Regions from separate parts of the Homo sapiens genome. Here region 2 is linked to region 1. Evidence: fine-mapped expression QTL. Tissue or cell type: monocytes after interferon gamma. Region 1 holds a variant in brackets; the other region holds the start of a gene. All regions are shown on one strand. Distances are between the middles of the regions.

Region 1 (8,106 bases):
TATGACAGTGATTTTGGGATCCAAGGTTTATTTTCCTTTCACATCCCTGGTATAACGACCAGTCTGTGTTCAATTTTCCTAATTGTCCCTAAATGTCTTTTAAAGGTGGTTTATAAAAATCAGGACTGAAACAAGACTACATATTTCATTTGGTTGATAAGTCTCTCTCTCTCTCTCTCTTTCTCTTTCTCTGTCTCTCTCTCTCAAGTTAAATACATGCTTTTCTATTGAAATAATTAATATTTTTCCTAGTTTCTAAAACAGAAATCAGATTTCTTTACTTTTTCTTTCTTTTTTTTTTTAGACAGAGTCTTGCTCTGTCGCCCAGGCTGGAGTGCAGTGACATCATCTCAGCTCACTGCAACCTCCGCCTCCCAGGTTCAAGCTATTCTTCTGTCTCAGCCTCCCAAGTAGCTGGGAATACAGGCATGTGCCACTGCGTCCAGCTAATTTTTGTATTTTTAGTAGAGACTGGGTTTCACCATGTTGGCCATACTGGTCTCGAACTACTGACCTCAAGTGATCTGCCCACCTCGGCCTCCCAAAGTGCTGGGATTACAGGCATGAGCCACTGCACCCATCCCAGAAATCAGATTTCTAAACAGAAGAAAAGGCCTTAGCCAAAGAGATGAAGATTAAACATTCAGATTGGCCTAAAAAAAACTGACAAATTGAGTAAATTAACTTGAATAAATTGAACACACATTCAGAACAGAATTGTGTCTTTTGGTCAGCAACATGTAAACCAAAGGCAAATGCCAAGATTAAAGCAGGCTTTCTTCTTTTTTTTTTTTTTTTTTTTGAGATGGAGTCTCGCTTTGTGCCCAGGCTGGAGTGCAGTGCCATGATCTCAGCTCACTGCAACCTCCGCCTCCCAGGTTCACACCATTCTCCTGGCTCAGCATCCCAAGTAGCTGGGACTACATGCGCCTACCACCACGCCTGGCTAATTTTTTGTATTTTTTAGTAGAGACGGGGTTTCACCATGTTAGCCAGGACGGTCTCGATCTCCTGACCTCATGATCCACCCGCCTCGGCCTCCCAGAATGCTGGGATTACAGGCGTGAGCCACTGCACCCGGCTGCTTTCTTCTTTTAAAAAATATATACAGCACGATGTATTTTCTTTTTTCCAAGTTCATTTAAAGTTCACTTTGACATTAATGTGTATTGCTAAATTAGAATGCAAACTTTCTAGTTAAAAAATACATACATAGAATAGAAAGTTCCTTTTATTTTAGTCTTCTTTATACTTTTTAAAAACATTTTTGACCTCGCATACTTAGTGTAAGAAATTACTGCAATAATCATATGACTTGAGGCAAAGGTTTGGGCACAAACATGCTGATGGTGATAACTCTTGTGGTAGTTTAAATAACAAGCAGAGAGGCTTTTTGTTTGTTTGTTTGTTTGTTTTTTGAGACGGAGTCTTGCTCTGTCGCCCAGGCTGGAATACAGTGGCACGATCTTGGCTCACTGCAAGCTCCGCCTCCCGGGTTCATGCCATTCTCCTGCCTCAGCCTCCCTAGTAGCTGGGACTACAGGCGGCCGCCACCACGCCCGGCTAATTTTTTCTATTTTTTAGTAGAGACAGGCTTTCACCGTGTTGGCCACGATGGTCTCGATCTCCTAACCTCGTGATCCGCCCGCCTCGGCCTCCCAAAGTGCTGGGATTACAGGTGTGAGCCACCGCGCCTGGCCCAGAGAGGCTTTTTAAAAGAAAAAGATATTTACATGGGACTAGAGTATTGTAATAGTAATATGTTATAGTATAACTATAAGACACTGTATTGTGTGAAACCATGTGTATATTTATGGAGGTAAAGGAAGACAAATTTTTAAAGAAAAAAATGAGGATTTATACAATTGTTTTGAAATAATTATCTTTGGCTATAAAGATCAATAACAAGAGTGACACCATTTGTAGTTGTTGGGCAAGTGTCCATGTAGAAGTATTTTTTTTTTTTGTACAAAATTGTGATAGTCTTTGTGTAAGGTTGTAGTTTTTGTAGTGTTTTGTGATAGTTTTTGTTATTAGGCATGCAAGAATGAGAACTCTCACTTTATCGCTTAAGTCTTATGAGTTGTTTTCTTTTTTTTTTTTTTGACAGGGTCTTGCTCTGTCACCCAGGTTGGAGTGCGGTGGTATGAACCGAGTTCACTGCAGCCTCAACTTTCTGGGCTCAAGCGATCCTCCCACCTCAGCCTCCCAACTGGCTGGAACTACAGGTGCACACCACCATACCTGGCTACTTTTAAAATTTTTTGTAGAGACAGGGTCTTGCCATGTTGCCCAAGCTGGTCCTGAACTCCTCGGCTCAAGCAACCTGCCCACCTCAGCCTCCCAAAGTGCTGGAATTAAGGCTGGAGCCACTGCACCCAGCCAGTTTGTTATCATTTTAAAAATATTCCTGATTTTATTATGATTTTACCAACTTTTATATATTGTTTTCTATTAAAATTTTTTTAAAGAATTAATTTAATTTAAAAAAAATGACAAAAAGACAAGAGTCTTGCCATGTTGCCCATACTGGTCTCGAACTCCTGGGCTCAAGTGATCCACCTGCCTTGGTCTCCCAAAGTACTGGGATTACAGACATGAGCCACTGTGCCCGGCCAAAATCTGTTTTTGAAAGTATTACTGATCAATTACTTTGTAGTTAGGCTTTGATGTCCTTTGGTGTCAGGATTAACCTGTCTTGGTTGTTGGTCTCATCTCTTGTTTCGGGGAATAATTGGCAACTGAGAGTCAGTGTCAGAATGATTTTAGTCATGTTTGAGTAACAATGGAGTTTGAAGAAAATGGCCCTTAGGCTGTTTATCTAGTGTGTATTATTAAGTTTATTTTTATTTGTTTTTCAGTCTCTCTTTTTTTTTTTTTTGAGATGGAGTCTCGCTCTGTTGCCCAGGCTGGAGTGCAGTGGCGCGATCTTGGCTCACTGCAAGGTCCGCCTCCCAGGTTCATGCCATTCTCCTGCCTCAGCCTCCCTAGTAGTTGAGACTACAGGCAACCGCCACCACGCCCGTCTAATTAT[TA/T]TTTTTTTTTTTTTGTATTTTTAGTAGAGACAGGGTTTCACCGTGTTAGCCAGGATGGTCTCAATCTCCTGACCTCGTGATCCGCCCGCCTCGGCCTCCCAAAGTGCTGGGATTACTGGCTGTTTTTCAGTCTTTTGTTCTTATTTTAAAGTTTTGGGGCAGTATTATTTTGTTAAGAGCTGTATTTTTGTGAAAATGTAACAAGCAATAGATATAAAGTTTTAAAAGGGAAAATTAGAGTAAATTATTAGCAATATGACAGTTTTAGTTTGTATAATGGTTTTGGGCCATGAACTGAGACTTAAAGACTACCAATTGAATAAATTAAATGACCATAGGGAATTTAGTTACACTTGTTGTAATTATATGACCCGTTTTGTTAATTTTCTATAAGTGGATCTTAGCTTTTTTAGAGGAATTTATTTAGGTATAGCATGTAATATTAGTAATAGTATAGACTTTTAAAATTTATTTATTTTAAATTTAAATTAAATTTTATTTTATTTTGAGGCAGGATCTTTCTCTGTCACTCAGGCTGGGTCATGCTAACTGCAGCCTTGATCTCCCAGGCTCAAGCCATCCTCCCACCTCAGCCTTCCGAGTAGCTGGGACGACAGGCCCGTGCCACCACAGCTGCCTTTTTTGTTTGTTTGTTTGCTTGTTTGTAGAAATGGAGTCTTCCTATGTTGCCCTGGCTGGTCTCGAACCATTGGGTTCAAGCAACCCTCCCACCTCATCCTCCCAAAGTGCTGGGATTACAGGTGTCAGCCACTGCACCTACCACTCTAGCCTTTTAAAATTTTAACTAATGGATATTAAAGGATTTTTTTTAAGTTCTTCTTCTTCTTTTATTTTTGGTCAAGAGACAGGGTCTTGCTCTGTCATCTAGGCTGGGGTCTAGTGGTGCCATCATAGCTCACTGTAGCCTTGAACTCCTGGACTCCAGGGATCTTCCTGCCTCAGCCTCCTGAGTAGCTGGAACTACAGGCCTGCACCACGAAGCCTGACTCGTTTTTTTTCTCTTTTGTAGAGACAAGGTTTCATTATGTTGAACAGGCTGGTCTCAAACTCCTGGCCTCAAGTGATCCTCTTACTTTGGCCTCCCGAAGCACTAGGATTACTGGCATGAGCCACCACACCTGGCCTAGGTTAGCTTTTATGTTACTAGCAGAAGTTATTGATTGTGAAATTTTAATTATATCTTTTTGTTCAATGAAAAAGGTAGGCATTAAGAGGGATAAAAGTTTTATTATGATATAGACTCTTGCTCTGATATCTTGGAAAAAGTTGTCTATAACATGAAAACATTAACTTTTTTTTTTTTTTTTTAACCAAGACTTCCTTCCACAAGTAAAAACCATTAACTTTTTCTGGGGGTTGCAGTTTTAATGTCTTTGGTCATGACATTGGATGGTTTGGTGAATCTTTTGTGTGGCCCATATATCAGGCATGAGACTTGGTTTTTAAAAGTTATCTCGTTTTAGTTTAGAAACAGAGTATTTTTTGTTTTTCATTGGGGAGTTGTAGCCAAATTTTGGACGAAATTGGAAAAATTTAGGATTTAGTATAGTGTACAGGTAGATAAAAGGAATTTGAAAATAATGGATGGGGTTATAATCTAATAATAGGTGTTTTATAGGCTTTTTAGAAACATAATTTTTTTAAAAAGTTGATTATATAGAAATCTCAGATTTAAGAACTTTTTTCAGGCTGGGAAACCAAATCAAAGCAGATTTCAGATTTTTTTTTATAGTCTTATGGTTTTTGAGCCTGTAAGAAAGTAACAATTTTTATTTATTTATTGTAAGGTTGAGAACTCTTGAAGTTAAGCATTTTATGTGCATTTAAAAATATGACAATTCAGTCAAAATCTTAGTAATATAACTAATATTTTTAATTGTTTGTTTATAAAGAGAGTAGATTTTAACTGAATTTGTATAAATAATGTTGTTATAAAAATGATACAAATAGTTTTTGAATTTTTTAAGAAATTAAGTAGGGAGAAGAAGCAAATGTTTTTTATCATTGTTTATAAAAGTATAATTATTAAATTATTAATATTATTATTTTTGAGACAGGGTCTCACTCTGTCACCAAGGCTGGAGTACAGTGGCACGATCAAGCTCACTGCAGCCTCAATCTCCCAGGCTCAAGCTATCTGTCCACCTCAGCCTCGTGAGTAGCTGAGACCACGGGGCATGTACCACCATGCCCGGCTCGTTTTTTTTTTTTTTTTAGTAGAGACGAGGTCTCGCTATGCTGCTCAGGCTATTATTGTAAACTATAGATAGTATATGAGAGAAAATTTTCCTTATTTTTATTTTTTCTTTTATAGAAATGGGGTCTCACTTTACTGCCCAGGCTGTAGTGCAGTGATGCAGTCATAGCTCCACTGCAGCCTCTGAACTCCTAAACTCAAGCAATCCTCCTGCCTCAGCCTCCCAAGCGGGGACTACAGGCATACGCCACCACACCTGACAAAAAATTTTTTTTGTCTCTACAAAAAAATTTTTTGTAGAGATGGGGGTCTCACTTTGTTGCCTAGGCTGGTCTTGAACACCTGGCTTCAAGTGACCCTCCTGCCTTGACCTCCCAAAATGTTGGGATTACAGGTGTGAGCCACCATGTCCAGTTGAAAATTTTTTAATGGAAAAGGAAACAGTACTTAAAGCATTACTTAAAGAAATAACAGTATTTTATTTTATAATTGTTTAAAAAGTAATAGAGACAAGGTCTCATTATGTTGCCCAGGCAGGTCTCCAACTCCCAGGCTCAAGCAGTTCTCTCACCTTGGCCTCCCAAAGTGCTGGGATTATGCTTAGCCAGAACTAACAGTATCTTGAATAACAGTTATAAAACGTTGTTTTTATTTTTTTAATTAGTTAACTTTCTGTTTTGTTTGATCTTGTTTAGTAGTTTTGATGAACCTATTAGTTTTTATTAGAGTTTTAATAATTTTCATTTAGTCGATTGATTTTAAAGTTATCAGAAATTTGTGTCTAAGAGTATTTGCTAGAGGCCTTTTTAGTGAAAAGTAATTTTATATTATAGCTGGTGGCAAATGTTTTTAGGGAAGAATTGAAAATAGTATCTGTGGATTAAACAAAGCCTTAGAATAGCCATGGTTAAAATTTGATGAGAGTTTTTTTGCCCAAAACCATACAATTGCAGGGAAATTAAACAACCTGCTCCTGAATGATTTTTGGGTAAACAATGAAATTATGGCAGAAATCAAGAAATTCTTTGAAACTAATGAGAACAAAGATACAACAAAGCAGAATTTCTGGGACACAGCTAAAGCAATGTTAAAAGGAAAGCTTATAGTTCTAAATGCCCATATCAAAAAGTTATAAAGATCTCCAATGTGATAAAGCCTCCTGTGTGTCTAGGACTACAGGTGTGCCCCTGTAACTTATTTTTTATTTTTTAGGAAGGCAGGGTCTTGCTATGTTGCCTGGGTTGGTCTTGATCTTTTGGCCTCAAGTGAGCCTCCTGTCAGCCTCCCAAAGTGCTGGGATTACAAGCATGAGCCACCATGTCAGGCTGAGTTTTTTTAATATAAAATATTTTTAACCTTTTTAAATTAAAAATATATTTTCAAAAATATGTATTTTTTCATATTTATAACTTTTAATATATATTTTCCATTTATTGTTTTTTTAATTTTGTTTCCTATTTTGAAATAACCATTAAGTTAGATTAAAAACATTTTTTAAAATAAAGAGCATATTTTAAAAGTCTTTATAATTTTTAAATTAAAAACATATTTTATTTGGAAATAAGCTATATATTTAATGAGTACTTATTATTTAATTTAACATAAGGAATTACTTTCTTGCTCCACTGATGTCAATTTGAATGTTGGCAGTTTCCAAGGAGGAAGTTGAGGGTTTTGGTGAAGATTGTCATCCATCTCCAACGCTAAGCCTAAAATAACTATTTAGGAGAGCATCACAAAAGGAACGCAGGTTGGAGAGATGTTCCAAATGTTCTTGTAACTGAACTTTAGGAAAGTGCACTTCACGCAGAGGTGCAAGGAAACCAAACACATAGGTAACCAAAGTAGAACGCGTATCTCCAAGGAAAAGCTGAGATGTTCACAATCTATCTGCCAGAAGATTTAGGCACTTCTTAGCATCTCTATATCCATGATTCCACTTCTCACAGGCGGTAAAGGAGAGGCTCTCCTCTGGTCAGGATAATCCGATCAGTGCTGTTGCAGACATTTTTCCAGGCAGGATCAAACCCAAGGGAAAAGGAATCTATGAAGCAAACCAACACCAAGGCTTTGTTACAGTAGAGTAATTGTGGCTTTCAACCCAGAACGTGTGAAGCGCTAGAGGAGGCAGCTTCTATTCAAGGAGAGCATTGAAAGCCAGTGTGTCTGCCCTTTGGCTGGAAATTCATAATAAACATTATATTTCTGTTTTCCTTAAAAGTTTAATATTTTTACCAGCTAAGAAACAATGTTGTCTTCAGTTGTCAAAATTGATATATCTTCCCTTGAACCTCTCCAGTGGCTATCTATGACATTAACTTTCTTTTCTTTTCTTCTCTTTTTTTTTTTTGAGGCAGGGTCTCTCTGTGTCACACTGGCTGAAGTGCAGTGTCACAATCTCTGCTCACTGCAACCTCTGCCTCCTGGGCTGAAAGGTTCCTCCCACTTCAGCCTCCAGAATAGCTGGGACCACCGGCACGCACCACCACACCTGGCAATTTTTTTGTATTTTTAGTAGAGATGGGGTTTTGCCATGTTGCCCAAGCTAGTTTCAAACTCTTGAGCTCAAGCGATCGGCCGTCTGGGCTTCCCAAAGTGCTGGGAGCCACAATGCCTGGCCCAACATTAACTTTCAAACATGCAACAGATAATTTGGCATAAGCCATCACCACCACATACTCACTGTGTACCAATAGGAGCCCCTAGCCACCTCCCAGCCACTGAGCTCCAAGGAGCCACCATCTTGACAGGGCTGATGGTTACTGCTCTTAAGTCTCTTTTAATCAATAGAATGGCTTGTTGTTGTTGTTGTTCATTGTGTCATTTAGTTTTAGTTTTATGCCATTTATTTAT
Region 2 (8,106 bases), 28 kb after region 1:
CTTTTTAAGCAGTGGTAGTTGTTTATAGGTGAGATTATAGCCTTCAGAACTCTGGGTGGCTGTGCTGTGATTCTGCTATTAGGATTGCCAGAGACTATACATGAGATCTTTGTCACCAGATACTTCCAATATCATTGGGTCTGTTGGATAATCAGTCCCAAATGGCAGCATATCTTGCACGGTGACCTGGATGTCACACAGAACCCCTTCTTGAGCCAGGCCCCTCTCAAAACTGATAGGTTACCTTGTAAATGAGTCAGAGCATGATCAAATATTGTTCATATGCCTCCAAATCCAAAGAGGACCACCAACTTTTGTAATTCTGTCTTCAAGGTGGGTGGAGCAAGGTGCAGCACTTTATCTCTTACTTTAATTTTTATTTACTTAGTTTAGTTTGGAAAGCAAAATAATTGACTTGCAAAAAAAAGTCTGTAAGAAAGTCCAGACTTTAGAAGGACTGGTTAACCAAATAATAAATACAACATAAAAAAGATAAGCAAACTTACCAATTTGTTCATGGCGGAAAAACAGCAATTCTCTCTCAAAATTATGAGAGTTCTGTTGGAGATCAGCATTGCAAAAATCGGGAATAAAGTTGTCTTTGCTACAGCATCAGTAGTAAGGTACTGGAAAGAATTAAGCTTTCATTTATTTTGGGTTTAGAACTATTCAGTGTGGCCCTGTTTTTGTATTGTTTTGTTTATCTCCAGGAACAAAGTGCTTGTTTTTTTTTTTTTCACTTCTTCCCTGATTGAGGGATGTGATTTGCAAGTCTACTCAAAATACAGGCAGAGAAAGATGTCAGTCTTGCTCCAGTCCCTCTTTGGGGTCTATTACCATTCATAAGCACAGATTTGCCCATCTAAGTTTGTTTAGTGATTTCTGATTTGATCAGATGTTTTGTTGCTGTCATTGTTTTGAGACGGTGTCTTGCTCTGTCACCCAGGCTGGAGTTCAATGGCACCATAACGGCTCACTGCAGCCTCAACCTTCTGGGCTGAGGTGATCCTCCCACCTCAGCATCCCAGGTAGCTGGGACAACAGGTGTGCGCCACCACACTCAGCTAATTTTTGTATTTTTTGTAGAAATGAGATTTCGCCATGTTGCCTAGACTGGTCTTGAACTCCTGGGCTCAAGCGATTCACCCACCTTGGCCTCCCAAAGTATTGGGATTACAGGCATGAGCCACCACACCTAGCCTGATTTTTGTTTTATTTGTCAAGTTTTATTCACATAGGTGTAATGGAAGGTATTAATTTATTCACAGAGACCTCCTTGTTGTTTGGTCAACAAAACACTAAATTTTAAGATTTAACTTCTGTTAACCCTAGGGTTGTAACTTACCTTTATATAGTCAAATTTATCAATTATTTCCTATATGCTTAATACTTGCTTCCTTTTTATTGAGGTATAACTTTCATACAATAAAAGGCACATTCTTAAAGGTGCCAGCTCAATGATGTTTACATAGGAATGTATGTAACCATATACCATCACCCAGATCAAGATGTAGAACATTCCCAACACTCCAAGAGGCTCATGCCTTCTCCCCCTTGGTGCCCCTCCCACTGTTTTGATCTCTATCATGATAGATCAGTTTTGTCTAGTTTTGAACTTCATATGAATGGAATTATACATTATGTATTCATTTGTGCCTTTCTTCTTTCATACAACATTTTGTCAGTGAGATGCATTCATATCCTTGCATGTAGCAGTATTTTTTTCTTTCTCATTGCTTGTGGTATTCCATTGTATGACTATACTATAATTTATTTGTACTTTTGAGAGACTTTTGAATTGTTTCCAGTTTGGGACTATGATGAATAACAGTGTTATGATCATTTCTGTATATGTCTTTCTGTGAACATAAGCACTTATTTCTCTTAGGAATATACCTAGGAGTAGAACTGCTGTGACATCAGGGATATGGATGTTTGACTTTAGTAGATAGTGTCAATGTTTCTATGTGGTTGTAATAATTTTATTTCCACCAGTAATGTATGAGAGTTCTGTTGCTTCACATCCTCACCAACACTTGGTATTGTCAGTCTTTTCACTTTTAGCTATTCTTGTGAGGAAAATATAAACTACTAATATTGAAATCAAGAAGAGATAGACTAATAAGTGTTTAAAATAATCCTTAAAGACTCCCTTTGCCCCCAAACAAAAAAAGGCCTGAGGGTTTTTAGGTCATTTCTACTAAACTAAAATGTATGTGTGTGTGTGTTGCGCATTGTTCAAAGGGTAGAAAAAGAATGAAGGTTCCTGACTCATTTTAGAAGACAAGCATAATTCTGATTCCAAAATCACATCAGGATAGTTAAAAGAAAAGAAAATTATAGGCCCATTTCAGTTATAAATTGATTTTTTAAAAATCCTAAATAAACTATTAGCTAGCTAAGCCCAAAAGTATACCTTCTTTACATATGTATTATGATCAGATGGATTTCATTCCATAAATGTAACATCACAAAATCTGTTAATACACTTCAGTAGTAGACTAAAGGAGATAATTCTTATAAATATATCAATTGATATCAATTGATGAAAAGCATTTTTTTTTTTTTGCTAAAGATGATCACCTTAAGGAATAAATAACTCTTAGAAAACTAAGAAGAATGTTCCTTAATTTGGGAAAGAGTATATACAAACAACCTGGAGCAAATGTTATGTTTAATAGAAAAAATTTAAATGCGCCCCCCTTAAGATCTGGAAAAAGACAAGGATGCCCACGACCACACCTGCTGTTTAACCAATTACTGGAGGTACTGGAAAATGCTAAAAGAAAAAGAAATAAGGGGTATAAATTGAAAGGAGGGGATAAACTTGTCATTATTTGCAGATAACATGGTCATCTTTCTCTAAATATCTGGAATCCATTGCCACTGCTACAACCTTAGTTCAGTTTCCCAACACCTCTAACCTAGATAGTCACAACTGCCCTCTAGTCTCCTAAACTCTGGCCTGGTCCACCTTCCACAGCGCACAGTCTGCCTGTCTTTCCTTCTTCCTTTCCTTCTTCCCTTCATTCCTTCCTTTTATTATAGAAGAGGTACACATTCATTATAGAAAGTATAGAAAATATAAATTGCCAGATAAAAACAAGTGATGGAATCATTTCAGTTTAGTCCTTTCCAGAATTTTTTCTATGTATATACACATTTATAAAAAAAAGAGAGACCACTAACTTTCCCTGACCAGATTATGGAAAGCAGTTCTCCATCCCATCGCTCTATTTCATTTCCTTCCTAGCTCTTGTTACCATCAAAACTTACATTATCAATTTTATTGTCTATTTCCTTAGTGTTTCTCCTTCTCCACTAAATATAAGCTCCACCAGTAGCTATTTGTATCTCGTTCACCCACTGCATGCCCAGAGTCTAGAATAGTGCCTGGCACATACATTCCTTTATGTACTGTGATCCCTGTCTTCACAGAAATGAGTCTATTAGAGATATATATTAAACAAGTAATTACACAATTAATTAACTACAACTAGGGTCAAGTGTTTCAGGCAGCCAATTGCTCTCTCCCTTTCTGGCTCCAAGGACCATTTCCTTACCCTGTGGACAATTTCTGCTGTAAGACTGTGACTTCCTCCGGCAACTGTTTGGAGCTCAGTGGATCCATCCAGGAATCAGACCCAGGAACAGGTTTGTACCTCCAGGCCTAGTTCTCCAAAGTTTTGGGGACTAGTCAGGCTTGTGGCTACAGCTGTTGTATCCCCTTGTCTTCTCCAGGCCAGAACAGGCTACACCACTTATAGCTAACTTGCGCAAACTGTCTGCTCCTCTAGTCCCTGCTGGTATCTTTGGCAGGTCTCGACTTGGGGTCTGGCCTTCTTAATGCCTTAACAAGCCCCACCCTATCCCACAGGCTATGTGTCCTTCAAATTGACAGGCTGGTTTGCAGACTGCTGAAGCTGGGAGCTGCTTTCCTTGTCCCTTGTGCCCTTCCTCAGGACCTCCTGTCTCTCTCTTTCCAGGAAGATCCCCAGGTTTATTCCCTTGAGGGATACTTCTAAGCTGGTTCCTGCTTGGGGCTGTGTTTTGGGCTTCTTCGTAGCCCAAAGAGTGCAGCTAGCTCCTGTACTAGTGAAGTGCCACGAAGCTGGCCTCCAGGAAATCCCCACGAGGCCACAACCCACAGCTATCTCCATCAGAGGAGGTGCAAATGAGGGCCCACACCTTACTCCATTTTGGCAGCCGCCCTAGGAAGCTCTGCCTTTATTTCTTCATCTTCAAGCTTATCACAATTTGAAGTTTATCTCTTCACCTCCAAGCTTAGCACAGTGCCTAGTACATATTAGCACTTAATGAAGAGGGGGCAATTCAAATCATTAACTCATTTAATAAAAAAATAGTAAATGTCCCACGCACCGTGCTAATGTTTTACAAGGATTCTTGGTATTTCATTTACACAGGTGCCATTACAATTTCCATTCGGCAAATAAAGAAAAAGGTCCAGAGAAATTAAGTGACTTCCCAAAGTCACAAAGTTCTGGTATCTCTTCACTGCCTGAGACGCAACGGAGCATCGTAGAGGGAAAATGCCAGAAAGCAGGCAGTGCACCAATGAAAACAGGCTCGCGGGAGAACCAAAGGGTGGCAAGCTCAGCACGGCCAGTAGCTTTCACCCTCGGTTGCCAGTCGGCTTCGTTTCCTACAACACCGACCGGAAGTGTTTCTGTCGGCCGCGTTCCGAATGAGCACCGCCGGAAGTTTCTGCCGCGGCTTTGCGGGGACGGGGGAGTGGTAGTGGGGGCTGCAGCTGCCGGACCCAGGTGCGGAAGTGCGAGGGCCCAGGTGGCTGAAGGGGCCGTTAGGAACATCCAAGCGGTGGGGCACAGGCAGATCCCCGACCTGACCTGGACCACCCTTCTCCTCTTGGCCCGCCCCTTCAACTCGCCTCCGCTTAGGTCTGGATTGGCCCCGCCCCCTGACCTGAGCCTGGTCCTTCTTCAGGCACTGACCCTTGACCTCCGGTGGCTCCCCCATCTCTCAGGCGCGATGGCTACGGGCGCGGATGTACGGGACATTCTAGAACTCGGGGGTCCAGAAGGGGATGCAGCCTCTGGGACCATCAGCAAGAAGGACATTATCAACCCGGACAAGGTAGCAGGGGCACCTGAAAGCGTTGACTAGGGGAGGGTAGGGGAGTGAAGATGGGGAGGAGTGACAACGGGCAAGGGATGGGTGCTACACTTACAGTGAGTTGGGCGATAAAAGGGGTGACATAACAGGACAGGGAATATGTGTCATCCTTGATGGGAGGGAGGAGATGGGACATCGTGGGAGATGGTGGGACCAAGAGGGTATGACACCTCTAAGAGCTGAGAGGACCAGGCAAGTGTGATTTTTGCAAGATATTGTTGGGGAGAGATCAAGACATTGTAACAGTCTGAGAGTTGGTGGGATGGGGAGGGGACTGCTCTGATTTGGGCGTAGGATGGTGTTCCTGGGAGTGGGTTTCTGTGCCTTTACAGTGTGTCAGTTTGCCTGTCATTGACCCTGTAGGTGCTGCTTTGTTCAGGGATTGAGCTGGACTAAAGAATTTTCAGGAAAGGGTCTAGGTTGTGGTTCCTTTCTGTGGTTTCCTTCCTCAGAAAAAATCCAAGAAGTCCTCTGAGACACTGACTTTCAAGAGGCCCGAGGGCATGCACCGGGAAGTCTATGCCTTGCTCTACTCTGACAAGAAGCAAGTATTGGAGTCCCAAGTCCCCCAGGTTTTGGCCCCTGATTCACCTGCCATGCCCCTAACTCCTAGTTTTCTCTAACAATTTTCTCCTCCCCAGCAAGGGCTCCTGCTTGCTTAGCAGGATGCAGGAGGACCTGAAGTCTTTTGCTCCAGGACATGACTTTCTTGCTATAGGGTAGGGTAGATCAGCTCCCTGGGACAAAAAGCTCTTTAACACACCTTCTGATTCTAACCTCGCATCTCCCTAAACCTCCCTGCCAGGGATGCACCCCCACTGCTACCCAGTGACACTGGCCAGGGATACCGTACAGTGAAGGCCAAGTTGGGCTCCAAGAAGGTGCGGCCTTGGAAGTGGATGCCATTCACCAACCCGGCCCGCAAGGACGGAGCAATGTTCTTCCACTGGCGACGTGCAGCGGAGGAGGGCAAGGACTACCCCTTTGCCAGGTTCAATAAGGTAAGCTACCTTCATTCGGACACAGGCCAAGATTGCCCTCCCACTTTGAGCCATTTGTGCGAGCTCTCCAGTCTCCTAGGGTTGGTTCTGGGGGCACGCTTATGCCCAACTGTGATTACCCACTCAATCCTCGTGGCAAATGCATGCAGAGTAGGACTCTGTGGGTCTTTTCTGCCCAAGGGATCCTGTTCTTTCCCGGACCTGCTCTGGTTTTTCATGGCTTTTCTTGGTCTTTCAAATGTTGCTGTTCCTCAGAGCTGTATCCTAGGTGCTCTAGTCTTCTTGTTCTCTACTTTCTTAGTATGAACCCTGTGGCTTCAGTTACCCTCTCTACAAGTCACCAATCCAGAGCAGTGCTTCCTTCGCATCCAGTCATTTACTAATATCTCTTTCTCAATGCCCCACAGGTACCTTACATCAGGTAGGTACCCTGAACAGAGCTCATCATCTTCCCTCTGTCAGTCCCAAATCTGTTCCCCATCTCAGTGAATGGCACTATCTTCCACCCAGTTGCCCAAACCAGAAACTTGGGGGATCGTCCTTGACTTAGTCTTCTCCCTTAGTCCTCACAGTATTTAAATCAACAACAGAACAAAGAAGGTAGGGGAAAACAAACAACAAACATGTAAGGAAATAAATTGGAGTCTTTCAAATAAGAGCCGTCAGTAACACGAAACCAGGATTTGAATGGATATGAAATGAGATAAAGAGTGAACTTGTAGGTGTAGGGGAGTCCTACCTTAGGTTGGTCAGGGAGGGTCTGAGAACGTGGCATTTGAGCTGGATGCCAGTGATACATCTATTTATTGAGTCCTGTTGATTCTTTTTCCATAATAAATCACATCTCTGACTATATTCTTCATCACTATGCCAGCCCCCTAGTCCAAGCTGAGTTACCTGTGTAGCTCAGCACAGCACGGCCTTCCCAGACTCACCCATTCAGTGAGAGGCAGAGCTAGATTGGGCTAGGTTTCCTAGTCCATTACTTAAGTCATTGTACAGTGTGGCCTCACAGCTGCTGCGGCCTGGAATAGCCTAGACTTAGATCCTAAAAGCCTCATTTACCTCTTCTCTAACCAATCTTTGTCCCTGGGCTGGAGTGTCACTTGTTATACCCTATGTATCAAACTTCCCACACGGTACCAAAATTGTTTTTTCAGCTGCAGTATGAGCTTTGAGAGGCTAGGATCCCTGCCTGTCATATGCAGCACTGTGTCTCCAGCATAGGTATTGCAGCCCCATGGTAAATATTTGTTGAATGAATGAAAAAATGTCTTCCTCACTTGACTATGAGCTACTTGAGAGGACTGGCTGCACAGTTCCTGAGGATTTTTTTTTTTTCCTTCTTTGAGACAGGGTCTCTTTCTGTCTGCCAGGCTGGAGTGCAGTGGTGTGATCTCAGCTCATTGCATCCTCCACCTCTAGGGCTCAAGCGATCCTCCCACCTCACCCTCCTGAGTAGCTGGGACCACCGGCATGCACCAACATGCCTGGCTAATTTTTGTGTTTTTTTAAGAGACTGGGTTTCACCATGTTTCCCAGGCTGGTCTCAAACTCTTAGGCTCAAGTGATCTGCCCACCTCAGCCTCCCAAAGTATTGGGATTACAGGCGTGAGCCACCGCACATGGCCCTGAGTTGTTGGTTTGTTTGTTTTTTAGTTAAATTGAATTAAAATGCATAGGAGAAATATGTAACCAAACCTGGGAAACCAGAGAGACTTCCCAGAGGAGATGATGCCTGAGAGCTCGAAAGGTTGAGAAAGTTACCTAGGTAGAAGGAATGTGGAAGTGGAAGGCATTTCAGGCAAGAGCAGAGGTCAAGGGGGAAGTCTGCTATGTTCTAGAAACTGCTAGTCATTTGGCTGCAGTTTAGGGTTCATGAGGGACAGTGGCTGCAGGAGGAGGCCAGGTCATTTATTTGTATGTTCATTAATTGATTTGGTAGACACTG

Which allele goes with the higher level. Positions count from the first base shown, and alleles are read on the strand shown. Sizes are in standard deviations (SD) of each study's normalised expression.
For the expression in monocytes after interferon gamma of the gene that starts at base 4,728 in region 2, TA is the low allele of the variant in region 1 and T is the other (moderate effect, 0.53 SD a copy in Fairfax 2014).

What was found. PIP is the estimated chance that this variant, and not a neighbour inherited with it, causes the effect.
Region 2: it holds the start of DMAP1, and the variant in region 1 is fine-mapped to the expression of DMAP1 in monocytes after interferon gamma (Fairfax 2014, PIP 0.93).

Annotation. Positions count from the first base shown.
Region 1 is chr1:44,181,083-44,189,188 of GRCh38, forward strand. It overlaps the pseudogene LOC100130714. Among named protein-coding and RNA genes, the nearest start is that of DMAP1, 28 kb to the right of the region's middle. The variant TA/T (reference allele first, on the strand shown) is at 3,035.
Region 2 is chr1:44,208,744-44,216,849 of GRCh38, forward strand. DMAP1 (DNA methyltransferase 1 associated protein 1) reads left to right here and starts at 4,728. Exons shown (of 10, transcript NM_019100.5): 1 at 4,728-5,115; 2 at 5,607-5,698; 3 at 5,960-6,155. The coding sequence starts at 5,011. RefSeq lists a silencer at 4,037-4,136 and enhancers at 4,534-4,828, 4,567-4,806, 5,572-6,073, 6,074-6,573.